2 linked regions of the Homo sapiens genome follow. The protein of the gene in region 2 interacts with the protein of the main gene of each other region in a biochemical or structural test. Each region holds a gene or a part of one and is shown on either strand. Other genes may lie near its edges.

What was found.
Region 1: the proteins of CEP350 (region 2) and PPARD form a complex in vitro, tested with the Homo sapiens proteins (one study listed by BioGRID).

The regions. Positions count from the first base shown.
Region 1 is NC_000006.12:35,345,558-35,352,557, forward strand, and holds part of PPARD (peroxisome proliferator-activated receptor delta), read left to right. Parts: intron 1-1,509; 5' UTR 1,510-1,580; coding exon of another isoform or gene 1,581-1,593; intron 1,594-2,805; exon of another isoform or gene 2,806-3,446; intron 3,447-6,020; exon of another isoform or gene 6,021-6,139; intron 6,140-7,000. UniProt on the Homo sapiens protein: Ligand-activated transcription factor key mediator of energy metabolism in adipose tissues. Receptor that binds peroxisome proliferators such as hypolipidemic drugs and fatty acids.
Region 2 is NC_000001.11:179,950,515-179,957,863, reverse strand, and holds the start of CEP350 (centrosome-associated protein 350), read right to left. Parts: upstream 3,055-7,349; 5' UTR 2,761-3,054; coding exon of another isoform or gene 2,722-2,760; intron 2,643-2,721; exon of another isoform or gene 2,446-2,642; intron 1-2,445. UniProt on the Homo sapiens protein: Plays an essential role in centriole growth by stabilizing a procentriolar seed composed of at least, SASS6 and CPAP. Required for anchoring microtubules to the centrosomes and for the integrity of the microtubule network.

The DNA of each region.
Region 1 (7,000 bases), on a different chromosome or scaffold from region 2:
ACTGCTCGTTCAGGTGCCTTTCTCCTTGCCTCTTCACCATGGCCTTCTTGTGTGATATATGCCTTAACCCATTCAGGAAGAATTGCTCCTACTCAGCCTTTCAACCCGACCTGTGGTCCCTTAGACGCCTTCCCTTAGGGCCTGGTAAGAGGATAGACAGTGTAGAGCACTAGCCTGGGAAGCCATTAGGCCTCTGCTTTGGGCCTACAGCTGTCCTGACTGTTGTGCAAGCTGTCTTCAGGGCCTGCAGATTCTGGCACATCCTGGGATAGTGCAGCTCCTCTCTCTCAGGAGTTGGACCTGTCACTTTTTTTTCGTTTTTTTTTTTTTTTTTTTTGAGATGGAGTCTCGCTCTGTCGCCCAGGCTGGAGTGCAGTGGTGCGATCTTGGCTCACTGCAAGCTCCATCTCCCAGGTTCACGCCATTCTTCTGCCTCAGCCTCCTGAGTAGCTGGGACTACAGGCGCCCGCCACCACGCCTGGCTCATTTTTTTTTGTAGTTTTAGTAGAGACAGGGTTTCACCGTGTTAGTCGAGATGGTCTCGATTTCCTGACCTCGTGATCTGCCCGCCTCAGCCTCCCAAAGTGCTGGGATTACAGGCGTGAGCCACCACAACCAGCCTGGACCTGTCACTTCTAAGGGCTTCAGCTATATCCTGTCCCTGAGGCCCACCTCCCTGAGTGCTCTCTGCAGGCTGGGAAGCTGAACAGTGGTGCCTTGCTCCAGTGCCTCTGAAGGGCTTGGAAATTGCAGGACACAGCTTTACTGCTCAGCATTGCCCACACTGGAAACATTCTCTTCCTCCCTACCCAGGTCTCTGTGGGCTTTGTCCGTTCTGCCAGGCCCTTGCTTATATGATGTCAGAAGCCCTGTGCCCGGTGCCATTGTCAATGCCATGTCCCAGATTACCTAATGGCTGCTTCTTGGAGATGGTTTGGTGTCCATGCACATTTTTCTCTGCCGTTGGAGCCAGGGTGAGGAGCTGCTTGCAACAGCTGGATTCCAGGGTGTCAGAGGAGCCCTTGGAGCTTGCCTTGAGCCTGGCAGGGAGAACATGGCCCCTTGCATCAGGTTTCAGACATATGGGTCTTCTTCCTTGGCAGATGGCTCCTAGCCTTCATAACTCAGCAGGCTGGTGATTGGCATGTGACTCCAGTTCATTCTGCAGGGGCTTTGGTGAAGGCATCAACTATGACTCAGGACATCTTCATTTATGAGCTTCTACCCAGCTCCCTTCTTACCTTGCCTGCGCCTTCTGCGCCGACCTGATAAAATCAGCAAAGCCAGTGTCTGCTTACTTGGGAGTGAGCAGACTCCTTCCAGGATTGGGGAAATATTTGCTGACTCAGGCTCAGAATCACATCTCAGGGTGGTGTGTAAGGGACCGACGAGGAGCCAGATTACCTTAGGAACACTCTTTGAGTTACGGTGGGTATAACTTATTAGAGTTGCTTTGAGGGCCCCTGGCACCTGTCAGCTAAAGCTGTTGGGGTTTTTTCTATCCTGCAGTGTTGTACAGTGTTTTGGGCATGCACGTGATACTCACACAGTGGCTTCTGCTCACCAACAGATGAAGACAGATGCACCAACGAGGTAATCCCATTTTCTTTACTCAGGGGTCTCTGACCACCACTGACACAGGATCCAGATTTAAGATCCTGACCTTGAAGATGAAATAATTTCACTAGGGCTTATTCCCAGATTCCAGGTTCCTGTCACAGCATCTGGTACCAGTTGCTTATGCATAGTATAGGCATTTATTAAGTAATTATTGAAAGTCTATGGCTTACATAGTTTTTTCAGGAGCATGGAGATTCCCACCTTTGCGCCCATTAAAAGATAAACTCCACAGGGCAGGGAGTTGTTTTGCTGCCTGTTGTGTCTAGGATAGTGCCTGGCACAGAGGAGATAATGAATAAATTTTTGTTGAATGAGTAAATGAACGAACTTTCGTCTTTGCCTATATGGGTACCTAGGGTGCCAGGCCACAAAGATGGTGTCCATCATTCTCTCTTATTAGGGGGCAAATATATATATATATATATATTTTGTTTGTTTGTTTGTTTTTGAGACGAAGTCTTGCTCTTGTCCCCCAGACTGGAGTGCAATGGCGTGATCTTGGCTCACTGCCACCTCCTTCTCCTGGGTTCAAGTGCTTCTCCTGTCTCAGCCTCCCAAGTAGCTGGGATTATAGGCACCTGCCACCACGCCCGGCTAATTTTTGTATTTTTAGTAGAGATGGGGTTTCACCATGTTGGCCAGGCTGGTCTGGAACTCCTGACCTCAGGTGATCCGCCCGCCTCAGCCTCCCAAAGTGCTGGGATTACAGGCGTGAGCCACCGCACCTGGCCTTTTTTTTTTTTTTTTGAGATGGAGTTTCGCTCTTGTTGTCCAGGCTGGAGTGCAATGCCGTGATCTCGGCTCACTGCAACCTCCGCCTCTTAGGTTCAAGCGATTCTCCTACCTCAGCCTCCTGAGTAGCTGAGATTACAGGCATGCGCCACCACATCTGGCTAAATTTTGTATTTTTAGTAGAGACGGGGTTTCACCATGTTAGCCAGACTGGTCTCAAACTCCTGATGTCAGATGATCTACCCGCCTCAGCCTCCCAGAGTGCTGGGATTACAGATGTGAGCCACTGTGCCCAGCCGGGAACAAATATTTTTAAGTGCCAACTATGTGCCAGGCACTTGGGAAATGATAATAGTAAAAAACAGATCCAATCTCTGCCTCATGGGTCTGTGGTTTGCTGGTATATATGAGAGCTGGCCATAACACACAGAATTGTTTCTTCCATCTCTGCAGGGGTAGGAGGTTCTCACCAAGAGTCTGAACAATGCTCTGGGTTCCCATTGCTGTTTCCATGTTCTCAGGATGCCTGGCAGGTTTTATAAACTCTCAGAAGTGGAGCTCCAGGGAATACAATGTTCATTGTCCTATTTGGAAGGCTGGGTTGTTGTGGGTCCCTGCTGGGGGCCGGGGAAACGTGGGCCTCCTGCCTGATTTGTTTTAATCTCTGAAGTTCAGTGGTTCCAGTAGCTGTTTGTGGGCTTCACTTCCCCTTCTCTGCCTTTAACACCCTGCAGGTTTTCCTGTTGTCAGACAGGGTGGTGAGTCCCTGTGTCTCTCTGTCTGTGGGGGTCAGGTTGTTTGTAGATCTTTCAGGAAGGTCCTGGGTGGGGGGCCCTCCTGCTTTCAAACCCATACCAAGTGCTTTCCTCTGAAGGGAATGTGAGGGAGGAAGAAGGGGGGAGTTTCAGAGACTTCTGAGGTTCCCCAAGAGGGAAGAGGTCAAAGTACCTCCTGAGCGGGGAGAGCTACTGAGTTGAACTGATTTGCTTTGCCATTTGCTTTAGCAGCAGCCAGGCCCAGTGGCAGCAATTGTACGTGCATTTCCAGGGGTCAGTTGTCCAGTTCATCCCTGAGCCTTGAGCTCCCAGTCGCAGGTAGGAACTTCTCTTCTCCTTTCTTTTTTTTTTTTTTTTTGAGACGGAGTCTCGCTCTGTCACCCAGGCTGGAGTGCAGTGGCGCGATCTAGGCTCACTGCAAGCTCTGCCTCCTGGGTTCACACCATTCTCCTGCCTAAGCCTCCTGAGTAGCTGGGACTACAGGCGCCCGCCACCACGCCCGGCTAATTTTTTGTATTTTTAGTAGAGACGGGGTTTCACCGTGTTAGCCAAGATGGTCTCGATCTCCTGACCTCGTGATCCACCGGCCTCGGCCTCCCAAAGTGCTGGGATTACAGGCGTGAGCCACCGCGCCCGGCCTCTTCTTTCTTTCTTGATTGGGTACTGCTATATCACCTAGGACCAGGGGTGTGTCCAATCTTTTGGCATCCCTGGGCCACATTGGAAGAAGAATTATTATCTTGGGCTATACATAAAATACACTAACACTAACAATAGTGATGAGCTAAAAATAAAAATGGCAAAAGAATCTCATGTTTTAATAAAGTTTACGTATTTGCGTTGGGATGCATTCAGAGCTCTCCTGGGCTGCATGCAGTCATGGGCCATGGGTTGGATAAGCTTGGCCTCCCTAGGCAGTCCTCTCACCACAGCCTCCCAAGTAGCTGGGACTACAGGTGCACACCACTGTGCCTGGCTAAGTTTTTTTTTTGTTTGTTTTTGTTTTTTTTTAATTTAATGGGTACATAGTAGTAGGTGTATATTTCTTTTTTTCTTTTCTTTTTTGTTTTTTTGAGATGGAATCTTGCTCTTGTCACCCAGGCTGGAGAGCAATGGCACAATCTTGGCTCCCTGTAACCTCCACCTCCTGGGTTCAAGCGATTCTCCTGCCTCAGCCTCCCAAGTAGCTCAGATTACAGGCGCCCGCCACCACGCCCAGCTAATTTTTGTATTTTTAGTAGAGATGGGGTTTTGTCATGTTGGCCAGGCTGGTCTCGAACTCCTGACCTCAAGTGATCTGCCTGCCTCAGCCTCCCAAAATGTTGGGATTACAGGCATGAGCTACCACACCCGGCCTTGTATGTCTTCTTTTGAGAAATGTCTATTAAAATCTTTTGCCCATCCTTTTATTAGATTATTCGTTTTTTTCCTATAGAGTTGTTTGAGCTCGTTATATATTCTTGTTATTAACCCCTTGTGAAATGGGTAGTTTGCAAATATTTTCTCTCATTCTGTGGGTTGTCTCTTCACTTTGTTGATTGTTTCCTTTGCTGTGCAGAAACTGTTTAATGTGATGTGATCCCATTTGACCATTTTTGCTTTGGTTGCCTGTGCTTGCGGGGTATTGCTCAAGAAATTTTTGCCCAGACCAGTGTCCTGGAGATTTTCTCCTGTTTTCTTGTAGTACTTTCATGGTTTGAAGTCTCAGATTTAAGTCTTTATTTTGATTTGGTTTTTGTGGATGGCAAGAGGTAGGGGTCTAGTTTCATTCATCTCCATATGAATATCCAGTTTTCCAAGCACCATTTATTGAAGAGACTGTCTTTTCCTCAGTGTATGTTCTTGGCACCTTTGTCAAAAGTGAGTTCACTGTAGATGTGTGGATTTGTTTCTGGGTTCTCTATTCTGTTCCATTGGTCTATGTGTCTTTTTTTTTTTTTTTTTTTTTTCTCTGAGACAGAGTTTTGCTCTGTTGCCCAGGATGGAGTGCAGTGGCGTGGCGTGATGTTGGCTCACTGCAGCCTCTGCCTCCCGTGTTCGAGCAGTTCTCCTGCCTCAGTCTCCCAAGTAGCTGGGATTACAGGCATGTGTCACCATGCCTGGCTAATTTTTTGTGTTTTTAGTAGAGATGGGGTTTCACCATGTTGGTCAGGCTGGTCTTGAACTCCTGACCTCAGGTGATCTGCCCACCTCGGTCTCCCAAAGTGCTGGGATTACAGGCATGAGCCACCGCGCCTGGGCGAAAGATGGCTTATTTTGAAGTCAACTTTAGAATATTATAAAACAGCATTCTCAAACTTTTTGGCCTCAAGATCCCTTTAGATTCTTTTTTTGTTTGTTTGTTTGTTTTTGTTTTTTGAGACGGAGTCTCTCTCTGTCACCCAGGCTGGAGTGCAGTGGCACAATCTCGGCTTACTGCAAGCCCCGCCTCCCGGGTTCATGCCATTCTCCTGCCTCAGCCTCCCGAGTAGCTGGGACTACAGGTGCCCGCCACCACGCCCAGCTAATTTTTTGTGTTTTTAGTAGAGACGGGGTTTCACCATGTTAGCCAGGATGGTCTCAATCTCCTGACCTCGTGATTCACCCGCGTCGGCCTCCCAAAGTGCTGGGATTACAGATGTGAGCCACTGCGCCAGTCCCTTTAGATTCTTAAAAATTATTGAAGACCCCAAGGGCTTATGTTTACCATGTTAGAAGTTATAATAGGCCGGGCGGGTGACATTCGTTAATATCACCACTGATCTCATTTTTAAAAAGTCTTTAAGTATTGGGAAGCTGTCGGGCTCACAGTGGTCAATACACGTTTTCTAAATTTGAGTTTTCTCTTGAAAGTTTGATTTTTATCATTGGTAACATACTGTTGGTTCTTTTGTTTGATTTTGTCTGAGATAGCATCTCCCTCAGTCACCCAGGCTGGAGTGCAGTGGTGCAGTCATAGCTCACTTGCAGCCTCCAACTTCTGGGCTCAAGTAATCCTCCTGCCTCAGCGTCCAGAGTAGCTAGGACTACAGGTATGTGCTACCATGCCCAGCTCATTTTAAAATTTTTTGTAAAGATGGTGTCTTGTGATCTTGCTACATCGACCAGGCTGGTCTTGAATTCCTGGCCTCAAGTGATCCATCTGCCTCAGCCTCCCAAATTACTGGGATTATAGGCATGAGCCACCACACCCAGCCTTTTTTTTTTTTTTTTTTTTTTTTGATATGGGGTCTCACTCTTGCCCAGGCTTGAGTGCGGTGGCACAGTCTTGGCTCACTGTATCTAGCCTTGACTTCCAGGCTCAAGTGATCCTTTCATCTCAGCCTCCCAAGTAGCTAAGACTACATGCATGCACCATCATGCCCACCTCATTTTTTAACTTGTTGTAGAGATCAGGTCTCCCTGTGTTGTCCAGGCTGGTCTCAAACTCCTGAGCTCGAGCCATTCATTCCTGCCTTGGCCTCCCAAAGTGCTGGGATTAAAGGCATGAGCCACTGTGCCCAGCCAGTTCTTTTTTGTTTTGTTTTGTTTTGTTTTGAGATGAAGTCTCACTCTGTCACCCAGGCTAGAGTGCAGTGGTGTGATCTCGGCTCACTGCAACCTCCGCCTCGTGGGTTCAAGTGATTCTTCTGCCTCAGCCTCCCAAGTAGCTGGGACCACAGGCGCGCACCCCAATGCCCGGCTAATTTTTGTATTTTTTTAGTAGAGATGGGGTTTCACCATATTGGTCAGGCCGGTCTCGAACTCCTGACCTCATGATCTGCCCACCTCAGCCTCCCAGAGTGCTGGGATTACAGGCGTGAGCCACCGCGCCCGGCCACAAAGAATATTTAAAAGACAGATATCAAAGGTGGAGATTTTAATAAAGTTAGTTTTTATTTATTCATCTAGGA
Region 2 (7,349 bases):
AACAGGTTAGGGTCTTAAAGTTTATATTTTCTTTAAATTACCGTAACCTGTTGCCAGAGCACCTAGGCAAATCATTAAAATAGTAAATGAAGTTTCCACTGTGGCTTATTCCCAGTGGCTTTTTAATCCCAGGCTGTCATTCCCTTGCTACCCAGCAAATCTGAGCATATCTCTGGAATATATTCCCAAGAGTTGAGGTGTGCTTAGGAACTAAGAACTAGTCTTTTGTTTTGTTTTGCATTTAAAATATTATTCTGGGACTATTCTTTAGTCAATTTCTTCAATTAGTATTTATTGACTATGTTACCATATGCTAGGCACTGGGTGCATAATAGTGATTAAAGGATCTCTGCCATCATGGAACTTACAGACCAGATGAGAAAGGCAAAGAATAACTCAAAATAACCACAAGTAAATGTAAAATCACACTTATGATAACAATGAACAACAACAACAACAAATCAATACAGAAAAAAATACTATGCAATCTGATGATTTTTTTACACTATAACACTAAAATTTGCCTCATGTTGCAAAAATAACAATCACAATTATATGCAGAGAATTAACTTTTTAAATCATCAGTTGTCTCAACAATAAAATCATCAAGATATTACTACTTTTCAGTTATGTTACTGATCATGTGGCTTGAATGTTTGTTTTACATAACTAAGAGTATAAATGACTGAAAGAATAAAGATGACAGAACTGAGTATCCAAAGTGAAAGATAATAAATGAACTACACTTTAATAATCTTGTTCAAGCAAAAAGTATATACATAAAGAAGTAAGTGATCCATCATAATTCATGACTTGTCAATAATTAACAAAACGTTATAAAAATACTAATGTTTTTAAAGAACTGACGATCATCAGCATAAGGGGCAAGTGGCATGTAAAAAGGAACAAAAATAGAATAATTTTTTAATATTTTAAAATAACACCAAATGCCAGAGCACCTATATTAATATTTAGTTTAAAATAAAAATAATTCCACATTATCTGCAGAAATGAGAGGCATTCACATAAATGATCTTCCTTGTGTGTCAGTTTCCACGACTGCAAAATAAGGATATCTGCCATACCTACTTCACAAGATCACTGTGAAAACTAAATAAAATAATGTATATAGAAGCACACCAAAAACTGATGTCAGTTATTTTAGACTTCTTTTTTGCTCCCACTATAAATTATAGCAATTTAACAAATAAAATTGATTATAGCAGTACTTCATCTCCTTTCTTCTGCTCATATATGGTAGAAGTGTTATAAAATGGGCAAAAGACTGACAATCAGAAGCAGAAGGAAAAAATCCAAAAACTTTATAATTCATAAATTGATTGCCCCACAGAAGGTTGGCTGTTTAAGTATTAACGCTCTTACATGACACACACACCAATTTATCTCAGAAAATCAAAGAAATATGTTCACATACGTATGAAATTTTTTACATATACAACTTGCCATCTCTACATACACAAAATTTTGCTACTGAGGATGAAGAGATACAGAGATACACATGTATTTATCCACATATACAATGTATTCTAGCTTGAAGTTTATTTTCAGATTACAGTATCTTAAATTTAATGCACTGACAGTTCAAATGATTCAGATTTATTTCATTACATTAAATAAAATTTGTCAATTTAGCACACCGAAACTAATTATTATACGCCCATGGCTTTGAAGCAACTTCCAGCATGGGTCTAACAATCCCTCAAAGTCACAATTCCATGTCATTAGCAGTGCATTTCCTTGTTTAAAAACAATATATTAAACGAAGAAATTTTCAGAATGGAGGGCAACTTTTAGTATTTTATCATTGTTTCTACAGAACTTTTCAGATTGTTACTAGCTCTGCCAAAGATAGTCTTTCTTTTAAAACTCTTCAAATACAGGGCAGGAGGTATCGTTAACATGGCAACAATAACGACTTCCCCAAATTCAAAACAAGGATCACCATCAAAACAAAACAATCAGGTGGAGTACATGGATATTGATCACTATTTCTGACAACCTGTTTTTTCCCATATGAAGGATTTGCTACTGCATTAAAACATTAAAATCTATGCCTATGTGCAACTTTCTATCTGAATATTTAAAATCCAGGCAAATTCCAATTCATATCTTGTGACATTAGCTAAATATTACTTAGCATGTTGAGCTGCATTTAAAAGGCAGAGGAAAATACTGACAACTTCCAAAACATAAAGCCTTTTAAATCTTTCCCCAAATTATCTGTGAATAAACTACCTTCAGCAGCCGCTAGACTAGAGTAGATCAAAGTTTTCCCTATACTTGAGAATGTGATCCCCACTGAAAAGGAACAGAAACTGATCATCCCTGCCACTGGAGCCAGTCCCCGGAATCTCCCCAAATACGCCTGATCGCCAGATGAAGAAGGGACACTTCTCCGGGCAGCAAAGGCTAGAGGTATCTTACCTCTGCAGGCTAGAGGAGGGGTGGAGGAGGCGGGAGGACACTGGCACGTAAGGAAGGAAATTCCGTCTTCAGCAGGCACTGGTGGGACCCGAAACCTAGGTCCCCGAAAAGCCTCAGAACCCAGGGAGGTTCCCCGAGGGGGACGCCAAGCAGGGCCAAGACTCTCCGCGCCCGGCCCCGCCTCTCTTGCCGCCACCGGGGACCCGGGACCGCGGACAGAGACAGTTGAGGCTGAGCGAGACTCCGCGGTCCCAGCCAGGTCCTACAGGAGCTCACCTGAGAGTGTCGCCTCCGCCCTCGGCTACCACGGTGCATCCCGCGGAGCCTGGCGGAGGGTGCAGTGACGCCGCCCCGACCGGCCCCAGGGCTGCCCGGCCTGGCCTCCCCGCTCCGGGGACGCACCGGGTGCCCTCCTCGCACCGGCTCCGGGGATCCGCCGGTCCGCTGGGAAGGAAGACAAGGCGGAAAGGCTGCCTCCCCTCCCTCAGGGCAAGCCACCCCCCGAGCTGCGGCTCCCTGCAGTTCTCTCTGGCGCAGGTCTGGCCCCGCTCCCCGGCCCGGGAGTCACTTCGTCAGGGGCGGCCCAGTCGCCATTACAGCCCAACAACTGACACGGAGGAGGAGCGGCGCCAGCGGCAGCGGCTGTGGCGGCGGCGCGAGGCAGGGCGGGAGCAGTCGGGCCCAGGCAAACCTCGCGAGAACTGTCCCGAGACAGTGCCACAGGCATGCCAACCTTCGGTTAGGGCCATGTTGAGTGTGGCCGAAAGGTGGGAGCGAAATAAAACAAGGAGCAGAACCGCGAAGAAGCCATGTTTGGTGCGTCGAAGTTTAAACTCGTAGGACTTGGGAGGAGCCAAGGTATATCCGCAGAAGAGACCACCCCTGCCCTTTCGCTTTGACGCTCATTGGGCCTTTTGGCTGCGCATTTCACCCCGGGCTGAGAAAACAAGCTGGGGATTCGACAAGAATGAACTCAAAGTCTGGAAACGGCAGCTTCTGAGAGTTTACAATGTTTCACCAACTGTCGTCCAAATAAGTCGTCACCCCTGTCAGAGTAGTTGCAGCTCTGCCGTTACCCACTGCTGTCACTGTGGCCGTTTTATTCGCGAGGGTTACAGTTCTGTTTAGCATGCATCTAATGACTTAAGACTCCACGCAAGTAAAACGGAGTTTCCTCCCATTAAGTATTGGCTTTGCTTTAACAGTGCTTTGAGAGGCTCTCTGTGGCCAACATATCTTCTCATATCTTTGTCCTCGTTTCCCAATCTCCGCGTGGTGAAATCATCTATCAAGACTTGGCTTAAAGGACCTCTCTTCTGCAAATAATGCCATCTTCCGCTAGGTGCTCACTGCACACAGACTCGCCGCCCACCACTTCTGTCCACCTTCTGAACTCCGATAGTTATTTACCCAGAGACTGTTTCTCATCTTTAAGTGTCGTGAAGACTTTAAGATCTGTTTTATCTCTCTATACCCCAAAATGGCCTAGCACAGTAACTAGGACATTGTAGGTGCTCAATAAATGTTTGTCGAATATCAATGACAGCAGGAGGCAGTAAATGGTCCCTCTTTGTAGGGCCTACAGCTGTGCCTGAGTAGGATGTACAGAAGTCCTGCATACGTGTGAAGTGTCTCCAGGAAGCTGCACTGGAGGGGACAGGAAATGTGGGTAATCGTATGGTGCAAGTGGTAGCAAAAAAGACAACATAAGGAAAATGTTATTTAGGTTTTGCCCAGTCTTGCTGTTTAAAGCCCTGTGTTAGATGCTTTTCATGCGCTATTTTACTGAATGTAAACAACCACCTTATTAAATATACTCACTTTTTTAAAACGAAGAAACACGTACTGGCCGGTCACAGTGGCTCACGCCTGTAATCTCAGCACTTTGCGGGGCCGAGGCGGGTGGATCACGAGGTCAGGAGTACAAGACCAGCCTGGCCAAGATGGTGAAACCCCGTCTCTACTAAAAATACAAAAATTAGCCGGGCGTGGTGGCGGGTGCCTGTAATCCCAGCTACTCGGGAGGCGGAGGCAGGAGTATCGCTTGAACCTGCGAGGCGGAGGTTGCAGTGAGCCGGGATCGCACCACTGCACTCCAGCCTGGGCAACAGAGTGAGACTCCATCTCAAAAAAATAAAAAAAAAGAAAGAAAGAAAGAAAAAGAAACAAGTACTGAAAAAGCTAAGTAATTTGCCCAATTTTATACCATCAATAAAAGGGAGCTGTAAGCTTTGGGATCTGCTTTGCCCCAAAGCCTGTTTATACTTTTTCAGCCCCATGCTATCCCCTTGACAACAGAGAAGACACCAAAGTTCTGTCACTGTGCTCAGAGCAGGGTTACCCTGGTATCAGCCTATGCACAATTTCTACTTCTTATACCTTGTGTTGGTCTGTCTTCTCCTCGCCTCCTAAATTCCCCAAGCACATCAATGTCTTTCTTTTCTAATATCCCGTTACTCTTGTGTTTACCCTACAGATTGGCCCTGAATCTATCAAGTTTTGTACTAGTTGCATATAGTTTCATGAGAGTAATTAATCTCTGGAACAAGATTGGAGGTTTACTGTGGAAAGGTTTGTGGCCCTTCCCAGACGTCTCCGCAGTGTTAGGCCGGTAATAGGTATTCAATATGGCTCCCTTGTTTCTCCTACTTTTTAGTAGACACTAAGATTGCATTTTTCTTTATATTCTTTGTTGATTACTGTGGCCTTGACTCTCACCACTCTTTGGATAACTGGATCTTGGCCCTAGACTAAATCTCCAATTACCCGTTACCCATCTTCACATAGATACAGAAGTCACCAGCACCTTCAGCTCCCATATTAAGGTTATCATTTTTCCTCCCTCAGTCTCACAAAGCCAGCTCCTCCTCGTTTCCTCTGTATTTCTGTTCATGGCCGTCACAGAACACTCTTCTGAGAACTAAGAGAACCAAAGTTTCAGAAATATTATATACTCCTCTGTACGCCTTGCTCCCACCCAGTTATGAAGTCTCTAAATACCACTGATGCATATTTCTTATATGTACTTCCCTTTTGTCTGATTGCACCACTGCCTTCCTAATTTAGACTGTCATTTCTACTGCCCAAATGATTATAGTAGTATTTCCACAGTTCAGCTTGAGTTTTGTCTCTATCATGTCTCTACCTGCCAAGGTAAGTAAAAACTTTTCGCCTCAGCCATCAAGGCTTTTCTCAGTATGGCACCAACCTAACTTTCCATCTCCCTTAAGTAAGACAGCACAATAAAGTAGAAAGGGCAGGAATGTGACATCAGAAAGACACTTATTCAAATCTTGGCTCTATCACTTACTTGCCTTATGACCCCTCAAGAACCTCAATCTTCTTGTCTATATCAAGGCTAATGATATCTACCCTGTAGGGTTGTCTTAAAGATTAGAAATAATACCTGTCAAGAGCTTGACGTTAAAAGACAGAAATAAACGGTAGCTAATGTCACGAAATGGGAAGTGATACACTGACTGAGAATGTTACATTCAAGCCACACTGGATCGGAGAAACAACCTGTTCATTCCTACCTCTAGGCCTTTGTTTCCTAACCTGGAACACATATTACCCCAGCTCGCAATTTCTGCCACATTCTCTAAGTGCCAACTGAGAAGCTAACTACTACAGAAAAAAATCCTTGATTGCTCATACTTTCCAGGTGCTCTTCCACCCCTGAACTGTGTGATGCTGTGTCTCCTGCATAGAGCGGTATCTACTATCAGTATTTCTGCATGTATCTTATACATCATGATCATGTTAGATTCTAAGGACCTTTGTCTCCTTCATAGTGGATTAAAAGCATGAATTCTGCACATAGTGAATGACATCATTACATCGCCAAAGCTATATCTATTTCTTAATTCGTTGTCTAGAGATCAATATCAAATTTTGCATTCCCAGGAAAGAAAACATAGCTATTCACCTAGAATTTAAATTCTGGGTTTAAACCTTGGCTGAGGCCGGGTGCGGTGGCTCACCCCTATAATCCCAGCACTTTGGGAGGCCAGGGTGGGTGGATCAGTTGAAGGCAGGAGTTCGACACCAGACTGGCCAACATAATGAAACCCCATCTCTACCAAAAATACGAAAAATTAGCCGGGCATGGTGGTGAACGCCTGTAGTCCCAGCTACTTGGCAGGCTGAGGCATGAGAATCAGTTGAACCCAGGAGGCAGAGGATACAGCGAGCCAAGATTGCACCACTGCATTCTGGCCTGGGTGATGGAGTGAGACTCTGTCTCAAATAAATAAATAAATAAAGCCTGGCTGAGCTACTTACTAGCCATATAACTTTGGTCAGGGTACTTAACCTCTTCGTGACTCAGTTTCCACTTCTGTATAGTGGAGATTGCAATGGTACCTACCTCACTGGGTTGTGTAAGAAAAGAAATAACACATGTAGAGGAATATAAAATGTGTTCAGAATATACAAATATATAGAGACAGAAGGTAGATAAGTGATTGCCTGGGGCAGAGAAGTGGAATAGACATAGGGGAGGGGAGGAGAAATGGGAAATGACTACTAGTGGTTATGGAGTTTCCTTTTATTTTGAGAGGGAGTCTCGCTCTGTCGCCCAGGCTGGAGTGCAATGGCATGATCTCAGCTCACTGCAACTTCTGCCCCCCAGGTTCAAGCGATTCTTCCGCTTCAGCTTCCTGAGTAGCTGGGATTACATGCTATCCGCCATCATGCCCTACGAATTTTTGTATTTTTGTAGAGACGAGGTTTCACCATGTTGTCCAGGCTGGTCTTGAATTCCTGACCTCAGGTAATCTGCCCACCTCAGCCTCCCAAAGTGCTGGGATTACAGGCATGAGCCACTGTGCCTGGCCTTTTTCTTTTCTTCTTACAGAGTTTCGCTCTTGTTGCCCAGGCTGGAGTGCAATGGTGCGATCTCG